Homo sapiens: one gene and its partner. The protein of the gene in region 1 purifies or fractionates together with the protein of each later gene. This does not show direct contact. Each region holds a gene or a part of one and is shown on either strand. Other genes may lie near its edges.

Evidence for each region.
Region 2: the proteins of ATF7IP2 (region 1) and ARL14EP purify together in Homo sapiens (affinity purification with mass spectrometry; 2 studies listed by BioGRID and IntAct, with this or other methods). This does not show direct contact.

The regions. Positions count from the first base shown.
Region 1 is NC_000016.10:10,388,936-10,396,296, forward strand, and holds part of ATF7IP2 (activating transcription factor 7-interacting protein 2), read left to right. Parts: intron 1-7,361. UniProt on the Homo sapiens protein: Recruiter that couples transcriptional factors to general transcription apparatus and thereby modulates transcription regulation and chromatin formation. Can both act as an activator or a repressor depending on the context.
Region 2 is NC_000011.10:30,325,836-30,333,196, forward strand, and holds part of ARL14EP (ARL14 effector protein), read left to right. Parts: intron 1-1,170; exon of another isoform or gene 1,171-1,223; intron 1,224-5,050; 5' UTR 5,051-5,113; coding exon 5,114-5,539; intron 5,540-7,030; coding exon 7,031-7,158; intron 7,159-7,361.

The DNA of each region.
Region 1 (7,361 bases):
CGGGAGGCGGAGCTTGCAGTGAGCCGAGATCGCACCACTGCATTCCATCCTGGGCGACAGAGCAAGACTGTCTCAAAAAAAAAAAAAAATTATAGTGGGAAATTTAGATAAAGAAGTAGTAGTTCTCTCGGGGCTGTTTTTTTGAGGAGGTGATCTTTAAGCTTGATCTTGAAAGAGCATAGACTAGGAGGGAAGGTTGATAATATGACAGTTCTGGTCAATTTGGAAAGTGAAGGTTAGGTTTATAAGAAGGTTCAGTTGATATCTCCAGGAAAAGACAAACTACTGTGAAAGAAAGATAGTGTAGTCATGGTAGTCTATCTGGCTATATAGAGAATATTTATAACAACTTAAATATTGATTTAACTGAAAATACGATGAGCTGTAAGAGACGTGTGAACTACAGAACTGGATCTACGAATGACAGGAGGGCAGACCACAGTGCTTTTCACATCCTCCCCTCCTTCCCTTGGGCATAAGACCTGGCTATAGGAAATCTAGCTAATTACAAGAACGTCTTTATAATTTGGAGGGAAACTCTTGGAACTGTGAGTGCTCCCCGTCCAGTGTTACCATCCCCTACCATCCAATTAAAATGTTTCCAACCCACCTCCAAAAAAAATACATATGTGAGCTAAATCTTCATCTGCAATTACAGGAAATCGACATGGCTAAAATTTGTAACTCAAGAAACAGTATGAAAATATTTTAAAATACTGAGATTTTAAAAACAAGTTGTTAAAATTAAAGTGATTGCCATTAGATATTCGGGAGTGCTGGCAAGCAACTGCTTTATTTCATAATGAGCATTTTATACTATTACATTGATAAAACTTGAAAAAAGTAATGTCAGAATTCTATTAGCATTCAGGTGATGCGGATGCTGCTGGTCTATGAACCACACTTGGCATTACTTCATGGTCATTATGAGATTAACTGCCACCTGGCCTGAGTTTTGTTATTTTGTTAACCACTATATAACTCTTAAAGGGCCCTGTCGCTTCATAATAACTGTTTTGTGTTTGTGATAGACTTCTTCGAGTCTTAAGACCCTCCGTTCAAATATTGGCTGAAGTACCTGACTTTGAACAAGATTAGTTAAATGGGTTTTTTCTAAATTTTTACTTTTTAAAAAGAGTAACAGTAAAAATTCAGTTCAGTAGTTTTTTTTAATTTAATGAGAATTGTTCTTATTAAAGTGTTTATTATGTATTAAGATACTACCTTGGAGAACATCACTGGAGAACAGAGATGTTTTATAATGGAGAAACCCAATGAAGCAGGAAAAAACCCAACTAAATCAGCATGCACCCATAACTTCGAACTATAACAGGAAAAAAGATTAAGCTAACTTTTAACCACAAAGATACAGGAAATATGTTATTGCTTGGAAAGTAACATGCTTGTGAATAATCTACAGGTTAAAAAATTACAATGCATCTTAGAGAATATTGGATAAATATCAAATTATAAGGTAGAGTTTTTCAAAACTTGTGGGCTCAACTAAAGTAGGGCTTAGAGGAAAATTTACAGCTTTAAGTGAGAAATTAGAAAAAAAGGTAATAGGCTGGGCATGCTGACTCATGCCTGTAATCCCACCACTTTGTGAGGCCAAGGTAGAGGATAACTTGAGGTCAGGAGTTTGAGACCCACCTGGGTAACATTACACAGGACCCTGTCTCTACAAAACAATGTTTTGTAAAATTAGCCAGCCATGGAGGGACACACTTGTAGTCCTACCTCCTTGGGAGGCTGAGGCAGTAGGATTACTTGAGCCTAGGATTTTGAGGTTGCAGTGAGCTGTGTTCATGCCACTGCACTCCAGCTGGGTGACAAAGTGTGACTCTAAAAATGAAAAGGAAAAAGAGAGACTGAAAAAATATCTGAGTTTTTACCTGAAGCTGCAACAAGAACAGCAAAGCAAACGCAAAGAAAGCAGAAGGAGGGTAGGGCATTGTAGCTCACATTTGTAATCCCAATGGTTTAGGAGGCCAAGACTGGAGGATTACTTAAGCCTAGGAATTTGAAGCCAGCCTGGGCAGCATAATGAGACCCCATCGCTATGAAAAACAATTAGCTGGGTGCAGTAGCATGCGCCAGTAGTCCTAGCTACTCTGGAGAATGAGATGGGAGAATTGCTGAGCCCAAGAGTTCAAGGTTACAGTGAGCTATGATCGCGCCATTGCATTCCAGCCTGGGCCACAGAGAGAGACCCTGTCTCAAAAAAAAAAAAAAATGTGCTGGGCGTGGGGGCTCACACCTGTAATCCCAGTACTTTGGGAGGCTGAGGTGGGTGGATTGCTGGAGCCCAGAAGTTCAAGACCAGCCTGGGCAATAAAAATTTTAAAAAGACCAGGCGCTGTGGCTCCCAGCTACTCAGGAGGCTGAGATGGGAGAATCACTTGAACCCAGGAGGCAGAGGTTGCGGTGAGCGGAGATCTTGCATTGCACTCCAGCCTGGGCAACAAGAGTGAAACTCTGTGTCAAATAAAAAAAGAAAAGGAATATGGCAGGAAATTATGAAATGGAACACTGTATAATAGGAAGCTAGCAAACTTAAAGTACTTTGACAGCCTCTTTTTGTCTTTTTTGTATTTTTGTTGACTTTGACAATCTTGGTACATGTTTAATAAAAATGATCAAGAAAAAGAGAAAAGCACATCACTAATATCAAGAATGAGGCCGGGTGCAGTGGCTCATGCCTGTAATCCCAGCACTTTAGGAGGCCAGGTCAGGTGGATTACCTGAGGTCAGGAGTTCAAGTCCAGCCTAGCCAACATGGTGAAACACTATCTCTACTAAAATACAAAAATTAGCTGGGCATGGTGGTGCACGCCTGTAGTCCCAGCTGCTGGAGGGCTGAAGCAGGAGAATTGCTTAAACCCGGGAGGTGGAGGTTGCAGTGAGCTGAGATCGTGCCACTGCCTTTCAGCCTGGGTGACAGAGTGAGATTCTGTTTAAAAAAAAAAAAAGAAAAGGAGGGACAGCACTACAGGTATTACACATACAATTAGAGAATACTATAAGAACTTTGTGTTGACAAATTTTAAATTGTGTTGAAATGGAAAAATAGGTAAAATTGACACCAAAAGATATAAAAAGTATGAATGGTTGTATTATCTTTTTTTTTTTTTTTTTGACGGATTTTCACTCTTTTCCCCAGGCTGGAGTGAACGGGCAAGATCTCAGCTCACTGCAACCCCCACCCCCCAGGTTCAAGTGATTCTCTTGCCTCAGCCTCCCAAGTAGCACCCGCCACCATGCCCAGCTAATTTTTGTACTTAGTAGAAATGGGGTTTCGCCATGTTGGTCAGGCTGGTCTTGAACTACTGACCTCAGGTGATCCACATGCCTTGGCCTCCTAAAGTGCCGGGATTATAGTCATGAGCCACTGCGCCTGGCCTTTTTTTTTTTTTTTTAAACTGGAGATGACATCTCCAAGATGGTTTTGAACTCCTGGGCTGTTTGAGCCTTGGCCTCCCAGAGTGCTAGGATTACAGGTGTGAGCCACTGCTCCCAGCTGGTTCTACCTCAATTTTAATGGAAAACCTTTACCACTAAGTTAACCCCAGGCCCAAATGGCATTAGTGGTTAATTATTCTAATATTTAAGGAAAAATAACACCATTCACACAGAAATTGTTCAGAGACTAGAAAGACTTTGTAGTTTGTATGAGGTCAGCAAACCTTTGATATCAACACCCAATAAAATAGACCCATCTCTCATTAACATTGATATAAAAATTATAAACATAATGTTAGCCATTTATAGGCCAGGCACAGGCCCATAAATTGTCTAATGTCAGCACTTTGGGAGGCCAATGCAGGAGGATTTCTTGAGCCCAAGAGTTGAAGACCAGCCTGGGCAACATAGTGAGACTCTGTCTTTAAAAAAAAAAAAAAATTAGCTGGGTGTGATGGGCGCCCCTGATGTCCCTGCTACTTGAAGGGTCAGGTTAGAGTCTTGTTTGAGTCCCGGAGGTTGAGGCTGCAGTAAGCTGTGTTCATGCCCACTGTACTTTAGCCTGAGCAACAACGTGAATCCATGTCTCCAAAAGAAAAGAAAAATGAAGTTTTAAAAATGAAACCATTAGGCCAGGTGCGATGGCTCACACCTGTAATTCCAGCACTTTGGGAGGCTAAGGTGGACGGATCACTTGAGGTCAGAAGTTTGAGACCAGCCTGGCCAACATGGTGAAACCCCCTCTCTACTAAAAATACAAGCATTAGCTGGGCATGGTGGTGGGCACCTGTAATCCCAGCTACTTGGGAGGCTGAGGCAGGAGAATTGCTTGAACCTGGGAGGCGGAGGTTGCAGTGAGCTGAGATTGCCTCAATGCCAGTGCACTCCAGGCTGGGTGACAGAGTGAGACTCTGTCTCAAAAAAAAAAAAAAAAAAAAAAAAAAAGACACCATTGGAAAAATCCTATGGCAGTAAAGGAATAGAACAAAAGGCATGAGACATAAGCCAAAAAGTGAAAGGCAGACATAAATCAAGCTACAGGTGGACCCTGAATTGTGATTTGACATGATTTTTAGTTTATGATGCTACAGAAAGTGATAGGCATTCGGTAGAATATAAAGCCATGAGAAATTCAAGACTTCAGTATAAAATCAACTTTGGGTTAAATTATTTTGCTCAATTGTAGGCTAATATGAGTGTTCTGAACATGTTTAAGGTAGGCTTAGGTTTTGCTATGATGCTCGGTAGGTTAGTTGTACCTGTATTAACTGCATCTTTGACCTAGGATATTTTCAATTTCTGATAGGTTTTTTGGGATGTAATACTACTGCAAGTCACACAGCATCTGTATGTCAATAGTAATATGAAGGCCAGGTACAGTGGCTCATGTCTGGAATCCTAGCACCTTGGTAGGCCGAGGATCATTTGAGGCCAGGAGTTTGAGATGAGCTTGGGCACCATAGTAAGACCTTGTCTCTACAAAAAAATTTTAAAATTAGCTGAGTGTGATGGCACATACGTGTAGTCCCAGCTGCTTGGTAGGCTGATGTGGGAAGATCACTTGAGCCCAGGAGTTCAAGGCTGCAGTGAGCTCTGATCTCAGCACTGTGCATGATAGAGAGACCTATCTCTAAACAAACAAAAACAACCAAGTAATGTCAGGTGTGAAAGGATTAAACAATCCCATGAAATGGCAGAGATTTTCATACTGAAGGGAAAAACAGCCTTGGCCTATAGGCTGTTTACAGGAGACAGACTTTGGATTCAAAGATGCAAATAGGCTGAAAGTAAAAGGATAGATGAAGATACAACATGCAAATAGCAACCATAGTAAAGCTATCGTGCCTATACTGATTTCAGACAAAATATACTGAAACAGTATTGCTGGAGATACATAGGGACATTCTATAATGACAGAAGAGTTGGTGCCTCAGGCATACAAATCATAAACATATATGCACCTACTAAGAGAGCAGCAAAATGTATGAAGCAACTATTGACAGAATTGAAGGAAGAAATGCACAGTTCAGTAATAATTGGAGAATTCAATACAACACTGTCATAATGGATAGAAAACTGAGGAAATCAGTGAGACAAGAGACGACTTGAGCAACACTAAACCAACTAGACTTAAGAGATATCTTTGAACAGTCCACCCAACAACAGCAGAATAGACTTTTGGAGTGTATGTAGAACATCCATCAATATAGTCACACTAGGCCATGAAGCAAACCAACACACTTAAAAGGACTGAAATTATGGGAAAGAACATTATCTGACCAGTGAATAAAATCAGAAATCAGTACTAAAAAGAAACTTGAGAAATTTACAAATATGTTGAAATTAACACTCCTAAATAATGGGTCAAAGAAATCATGAGGTTAATTAGAAAATACTTTGAGGTGAATGAAAATGAAGACAAACATATCAAAGGTTTTGGAGGGTACAATTACAGCAATTCTTAGAAAATTTATAGTGATAAATGCTATATTAAAAAAGACCTCAAATCAGTAACCTAGACCTTTTAAGAAAAACTGGAACTAGAAGAACAAACTGAGCCTGAAGTCAGCAGAATGTAGGAAAAAATTAGTGTGGAAATTAATAGAATAGACAAAAATAGAAAAGGAAACCATAAATCATTTTCTTAAACGATCAAGAAAATTAAACATTCAGCTAAACTGAGCACAAAAAAGGGAGAGAAGACTCAAATTACTAAAATCAGGAATGAATGAGGGGACATTACTTCTGACCTTCCAGTAGTTAAAAAAAAAAATTATAAGGGAATACTATAGAATAATTCCAATTGTATGGTACTCCATTTAATAGATGAAACAGACAAATTCCTAAAAAGACACAAAACTGCCAGAACTGACTGAAGAAGAGGAAAATCTGAACAAACATAAACAAAGCAGTGGAATTAGGACAAAATGAAAAGCCCCAAATCAGATGGTTTTATTAGTAAATTCTACCAAACATTTAAAGGTACAGTTCTTCAATTCTTTCAAGAAATAGAAGAGGACAGAACATTTCTGAAATAATTCTGTAAGGCTAGTATTATTTGGATACCAAAAGCAGACCCCAATACTATAGGAAAAGAAAACTGCAGAACGATGTTTTTTTAATGTATAGAGATGTGAAAATCCTCAACCAAATACTAGTAATTTGAAATTAACATAAAAGGATTATACACCATGACCAAGTGAGATTTATTTCAGGAATGCAAAATAAATTTCTCATGCAAGAATCTTTAATGTTAAGTGCCATATCAAAGAGAACAAAGCTACATGATCTTTTTAAGAGATAGTGAAAAGCATTGATAAGATCCAGTGTCCCTTCATGATAAAAACATTAAACAATAGGGAAAGTTTGGAACTTCCTTAACTTGTTAAAAAGCATCTGTAAAAAAACCCACGGTTAACATCATAGTGGAGGATTGGAGGTTTTCCTGCTAATTCAGGAACAAGATGGACCCCTCCTGGCATTTCTATTCAACATTGTACTGGAGGATCTAGTCAGGAAAATGAAGCCCATTTTTTTTTTTCAAATAATAAAAGCATCGAAATTGGAAAGGGAGAAGTAAAATATACACGGATAACATGATTTAATATGTAGAAAATTCTAAGAGATTCACAAACCATTAAAGATAAAAGCCAGTTCAACAAAGTTGAAGGATGGAAGATCAGTGTACATAAATCTGTTTTATTTCCATATACTTGCAAAGAGGAATCCAAAACTGAGATTGAGGAAAGCATATATAATAGCATCAAAAAGTAGTACAAAACATATACTCTGAAAACTGCAGAATGTTGAGAGAAATTAAATAAGTAAATAGATAATCCCATGTTCATCTAGCCAGAGGACTCATATATTTTGGTTATTAACCCCTGATCAGATGTATG
Region 2 (7,361 bases), on another chromosome or scaffold:
GTCCATTGAACCTTCAGCAGATAGAATTTACAAGAATACAGACAATTATTTTGCATTGCTGTTGGTTATCTACAGTTGACAGTTGTAAAATAGCTCCAAGATGCTGAAAGAATCAGACTTCCCATGTAATCAGAATGTGAAAACCTGAAAGGCTGTGCTCTCAACAGTGCAGTTTTCTATTGAAGCAGATGTTTTTCTCTGTCCTTAGTGTATCGAATTTAAATCTCCTCTCCCTCAATAATCTTCCCTAGAGTTAGACTTCCTGTAAGGCAAATACATATCTGTGTTTTTCTTACTCTTTTTTGCTATCTTCTATAAAATATAGAAGATATCAAAACATTTTAAATTTAAATTTTTTAATTGAATTATCTGAAGCAGTACATAGCAAACTGTAATGTGCTTACAAATCACTTGGGTATCTTTTTGAAATGCAGATCCTGACTCATTGGGTCTGGAGCTGATACTGAGATTCTGTATTTCTACTGAGGTCTCAGCTGATGCCAGTGCTGATTCAGGGAGAGTAAACAGTAATGCATTTCCAACTATATTAAGGAAGGGGCCAGATAAATCATCGTTATGGAAGAACATAGCACTGTACTGTAGGTGAAAGGAACAATATGAACTTGCTGGACTGTCATTTGAAGAAAACAAAATATAAACTGTAGGCCACATTGCCAGAACACAGACCAAAATGAGCAAAAACAGTTGCTAGGAAACAGGCCCAAATGCAGAACTTTAGCTTATAGGAGGAAGTCAGAAAGAGCTGGAAATGAGAACATTGAGGAATATAACAGAGGAGGAACAACCAGAGGGTGTGATTTTTAGAATGCAAACAGTGACCACTTAGGATCAGTGTCTGAAATTTGGTGTTCCTTGAGCTAGCTGGACTTGGACTCTTTGACAGTATGTGAACAAACTGCCTAATCGTAGATCAGAAAGCTAACCTATGGAAGACTTTAAAACTACCTTGACTCAGGTGTGTGCAGTTTTACTCAGGTGTGTGCAGTTTTACTCAAGTGAGTGGGATTAGTTTGCCGCTGAATTTTAATCTGTGTAAAATTTAGTTTTTATCACAGTTGGCAATGTCTTCTATCAGATAGGATATTTTAATTTTAAAATGAGCTGATCCTGTAAAGAAGTAATTCGTTGTCTGAAATTCAAATCTAACAGGGCATCCTGCGTTTTTTATTTGCCAAGTCTGGTGACCCCATTTTCTGCATCCAGTAAGTAGAGATCTTTGGTGCTAGCTCAATGTGCTGCCTGTTACTAAGAAAAACTGAACTTCCTGTAAACAACTTACAGGACCCACCTACTCAGAAGGCTGAGGTGAGAAGATCACTTGAGGCCAGGAATTTCAGAAATAGGTATTCAACTTCACTGGCACAAGTTACAGAGTCTATTCCATTAGTTTCCTTTAATCATGATGAACTCTGTTGAATTTTGTAGTAATTTAGCCATGAATAAAGGAAACTAATGGAACAGAGACTCCCCAATAACTAAGGAAAAGAATTTTTTACCTAAAATTAAAATTAATAGAGTAAATGAAATTACCCTAAAGGGTAAAAATGTATTATTACTATGGACAGATAAGGTTTCTAAAGTAATTAGTTTCCTAAATCCAAGATGCTTTTCCTATCAAATATGACCATGGTAGCCCAAGTTTTGAATATTAGGAAATAGCTTTATGGCAAAAAAAGTTCCATTATAGATCTGTGGCTAAAAACTGGTGATGATTACCTCCAAATAAAAAGAATCTCTGGCATTAACAAAATACTAAGCATTATTTTCTGTACAGTGATGAGGGATAGTTGTCCTAGTTTCCCTTGTATTAAGAAAGGTCAGGCCAGGCACGGTGGCTCATGCCTGTAATCCCAGCACTTTGGGAGGCTGAGGCAGGCGGATCACGAGGTCAGGAGATCGAGACCATCCTGGCTAACATGGTGAAACGCCATCTCTACTAAAAATACAAAAAAAAAAAAAAAAAGCAAAATTTAGCCAGGCGTGGTGGCGGGCACCTGTAGTCCCAGCTACTCTGGAGGCTGAGGCAGGAGAATGGCGTTAACCCGGTAGGTGGAGCTTGCAGTGAGCCAAGATCTCGCCACTGCACTCTAGCCTGGGCGACAGAGCGAGACTCCGTCTCAAAAAATATATATAAAAAATAAGAAAGGTCAAAGCCAGATTGTGTCCCTTATTTGCTAATATACATTGCCACATAGTTCGTTGCCTTGTAACTTTACCTCTGATTTCCTTTTTCTCCTCCTTAATTTATCTTAATCCAATTATCTGTTTGAAGAAAAAAAAAATTTTTTTTATTTTTTTATTTTTTGAGATGAGAGTCTCGCTTTGTCGCCCGGGCTGGAGTCCAGTGACACGATCTCGGCTCACCGCAACTTCCGCCTCCTGGGTTCAAGCGATTCTCATGCCTCAACCTCCCATATAGCTGCACTACCACACCTGACTAATATTTTTGTATTTTTAGTAGACACGAGATTTCACTATGTTAGCCAGTCTAGTCTAGAACTCCTGGCATCAAGTGATCAACCCACATTGGCCTCCCAAAGTGCTGGGATTACAGGCAGGAGCCACAATGCCTGGCTAGAAGAAACTTTTCTAATTATTACTGTGATAGAAGCCATTTTATCTGATTTGATTGGGACCTGTATTAGTTCATTTTAAAAACTGACTAAAACACAGTAAATGAATATAAATATACTCTGTTTTTACCAGCTTTAAAACTTTTTTCAGTTAAAATGTTCAGTAACATATTTTAACACTTTAAAGTGTATTTTATTTTTTAACTTTGTAAATACAGTATTTTGACCTAAAACACAGACATTTATTCGCCATTTTTTGTTACCTGAGGCCAGAGTCTTCTTTTTATATGATTTTGCTGATTATTGTTTTTCTCTGCAGAAACCATATCAAAATGTGTTTAAGATTTCTCTCCAGTTTTTGTTTTTTTTTTAATTTTGCAAAGCTTAAAAACACTTGTAAAATTGCTGAATCCTAGACTTCACAGTCCCTCCCTACCACTCAGATTTCAGTGGTTCACATTTTTTCTCAACAGCAGATTTTTTCCTAATGAGTTGCATTGGTTGCATATTTTCTTGAGAATCCAACTTTTTTTTTTAATTTGCTTTGAAAATTATTTATGAAAAATTTCAAATAGAAAGTATGGACAGTAGTGAAGCACTTATGTACATGTCACCAAACCTTATTTTCTGTAAATCTTTTTGGGGAAAATAATGTTTTTTCCCCTCAGAAGTATCCACAAATGTGATATATGTTACTCTTATGTATATTTTAGTATATATTCATGTTTCATCTGTAAATCTTATGTACTATCTTATCTTTTTAAATTTTACCTTTAATGATGATACTATATAACCTTTACAACTTTTTTCACTTAAGATTGTCTTTGAGATTTATTCATGTTGATTCACGTAATTCATGTAGTTTATTCATTTTAACTGTTATGTGGGAGTCCCTTGTATGAGTAACGATTTCACATCCTTTACAATTAGGTTATTTGTCATCTTTCACTGCCAAAGGCAGTGAATGCTGAAAGTTTTCGTATATAACTTGTGCTCTTATTGGAGATATTTTTCTCCATCTGACACCCAGAACTGAAAAGAGCTGAGTCCCAAGGTGTATGCTTCCTCAGTTTTACAAGAAATTGCAGAAAATGTTCTAAAGCAGTTGCAGCAATTTACATTCCTACCAAAGTTATTATAAGGAGCATGTGAGAGTTGGACACATCTTAACCAGATATCAGATTTTTAAATTGATTTCAAGCAAATGTTTAATAAATGATATTTAATTTGCATTTTCCTAGGAACTATGGGGGAAACAGTTTGTATGCATGTATTGGCTTTTGTTCTCTTTCTCTGTGAATTGCCTGACTATATTTGTTTAGTTTTCCAGTGGACTCTGTCATTTTCTAATTGATTTTTGGAAGTGAGGAGTTACTCGAATATTTATGATAATAATCCTAACACCTTTCAAGTGTCTTTTTTTTTCTCCTTTAGTTATACAGAAATGTGTAAATTTTACATATAATCAAATATATCCATCTTTTTATTTATTTATTTTTTTGGTATCTGCTTGCTTGTTTGAAAAATTCTTCCATACTTCCATGTCAGAAAACCTTCTTTATTTTCTCATAAACATGTTTAGTTTTTCTTTTCATGTTTAAATCTTTAATCCACTTGTTATTGATTTTTGTTTGTGCAGAAGAGATCTAATTGTTTTTCCATATGGTTAAAGTCCCTTCTTCATTAGTGTGTGATACCCATCGATTAATAGTACCACATGTCATATACTGAGCCCTCATCTACTCATGGATCTGTTTGTTTATACTATACCAATACCATAGTTTTAATTAGAATAGGTTTAAAGTAAATCAATATGTTACTGTATTTTCCTTCAGGATTACCTTGGCTTTCTTAGACCTTTGCTCTTTCATATAGACCAGCTTGCTAAATTCCAAGGGGGTGGCAGTAGAATATCTGATGGAACTTTGATTGTAACAGAACTGAATTTACAGATGTATTCCCAGATAATTGACATATTTTTTATAATGAGCCACTCCATGATATATAGCTGCATTTATTTAGGGTACCGTTTTTGTCTTGCAGTTTGATAATTTTCTCCATGAAGGTCTTGTTGTATGTCTTTTGTAAGAGTCACATATTTTGTAAGATACAGTGTTTTTTGGTTTCTAGCATCCCTGGTGAATTCTCTTATTAGTTCTAATAGTTTGTTAAACCTCTTGTATTTCTCATGTATCTTAGGATAATATTTCTTATTTCCTCCTTTTTAATTCTTATGTGGTCTTAAATATAATCTGTAATTGCAGATGTTTTCGTGAAGTTCTGACTTTACAGGGAACGCTTCTGTTTGATTATTAAATGTCTATTATAAGACTTCGATAAATACCTTTTTTATTCCTTATTTTCTTTTAGATAGGTGTTGAATTTTATCAAATGCTTTTTCAGTTTCCTAGATAAACTTGCAGCACAAATTTGATTCTCTTTAATATTTTCTCTAGGGTGATCAGCCCATGACCTAAACCTCCAGACAAAATAAAACGGAAAATTTGCTAGAATCAAGAATGATGGATCCATGTTCAGTTGGAGTCCAGCTTCGTACTACAAATGAGTGCCATAAAACCTACTATACTCGTCACACAGGTTTTAAGACTTTGCAAGAATTGTCATCAAATGATATGCTTTTACTTCAACTTAGAACTGGAATGACACTTTCTGGGAACAATACAATTTGCTTTCATCATGTAAAAATTTACATTGACAGATTTGAGGATTTACAGAAGTCATGTTGTGACCCATTTAACATACACAAGAAATTAGCCAAAAAAAATTTGCATGTAATTGACTTAGATGATGCCACTTTTCTGAGTGCTAAATTTGGAAGACAGCTTGTACCTGGTTGGAAGCTTTGTCCAAAATGCACACAGATAATCAATGGAAGTGTGGATGTTGATACTGAAGACCGCCAGAAAAGGAAACCTGAGTCAGATGTATGTGTAATAGTCATTTTTTTCTACATTGTGAATTCTACCATGTAGGATTTTGCTTAACTATAAGAAAATCATATTTACATTATTACTAAATTTGTTAGCATACAGTGAATTAAAAGGAGGGGTGAAAGTGGATGATGTTTCTAAATATTATTCACATATACTGAAGGTCAAGATTGGGGGATAAAGAAAGTAGGCCTGGGAAAGTAATAATAAAATATGCCTAAGACTCCAAGCTACAACTTTTAGTGCGAAGACTTTAGGAGTGGGTTTTAGAATATTCTGGCCAAGCCAGGATTTAGTTTCTTTTCTGATACCAAAGTAACTACACGGGACATGGCAACCACCAAGGGTCTTTGCAGCAGGATGACTTCGCCTTTATATGAAGGACTTGGAAATCACTGCTTTAAAAGGAACATTAGAGAGGTGACTTACAGTAATTGTTTTTTATTTCACTCTTTTTTTCTCCTTTGACACTGTCTCGTTCTTGAGTTTTTTAAATGCTTGTGAATTTTCTTTGCTTCTAGTTCTGAATTCCTACTTGATATGGTCAAGGCTAATTTTAGGACTCCTTGAGGTAAAAAAAAAATAATACATTTTTACATTGTAAAGTATTAAATATTTTACCTCTATTCCTATTGACATGCCTACATGCATATTTAACCATATCAGAACAACTTAAGTTTTCATAAAGCTATCTTTTGTGTAGGACAAGTATATCAAAGAAGCACATCTCAGAATTTTTACTTGTAATTATTTCATAATTCTTACTGCTGGAATATTTTTCTCAGTTTTCTCCTTTTTATTAAACCAAGTTAAAAGATAGTTGAAATTTGAAATTATACTATTTTCCTGTTGTTGTCTTCTCAGAGGAACATCTTGAGGGCCCAGTTTATCTGTAGTTCATACTAGATACTTGCTGATAGTGTCATTGTAGATGTCTTCACCTTATCTATCCAATGTTCTTGTAGAATATATCAGCTGCAGCTCTTTCCTCCCCAAATAACAAACATAAACCCTTAAACACCGAAATTTTGTTTCACCAAAACTTTTCAAAAAGATTATAATACTATTCTAGAACTTGAAATCATATTCTCTGCTCTTAAAAATATATAAAATACAATAATAAGGACCCAGGATTGTTAGGAAATCAGTTATGTGCCACTGGATTATATAGCAGTTTTTGTGCCTTCTCTCCTGTGTTGGCAGCAGCCATTGCAGTTTTCACAATGCCTTCCTCCTCTGCTCCTAATATACCAGAGACTAAAATAAAATAATGGAAATGTTACTAATACATTAACCAATATGCTTTGAATATGGTCTAGGGCCATGTAAATTTTCTTGCACTTAGGCTCTAAAACCTTGTTTTCTTTTTTGTGTGTTCCAGACTGTCTTCCATGTTAGGGAATCGTCTGGTTTAACATTAAATAAAATGTTAATCTGTTGTCTGTTGTCAAGATTTGAGTTGATAATTTGTTTACCTTTCTTCAGGGAAGAACTGCTAAAGCTTTGAGGTCATTACAATTTACGAATCCAGGAAGGCAAACTGAATTTGCTCCAGAAACTGGTAAAAGAGAAAAAAGAAGGCTTACAAAAAATGCAACCGCTGGTTCAGACAGGTAGGCTAAGTGTTACTGAAGACATGTTAACTTGCTGCTTCACATCTGCATTGTTCCCCTATTTTTCTCTTAAATTTTGAATTTTCTGGGTTCATATTTTAAATTGGATAATGTAGAATTAGTAAAAACCTATGAAGGCCTTTGTTTTTATTCATATAAAATTAAGGTATCCCTTTCAACTACAAAAATTTGTTTCTAAGAAG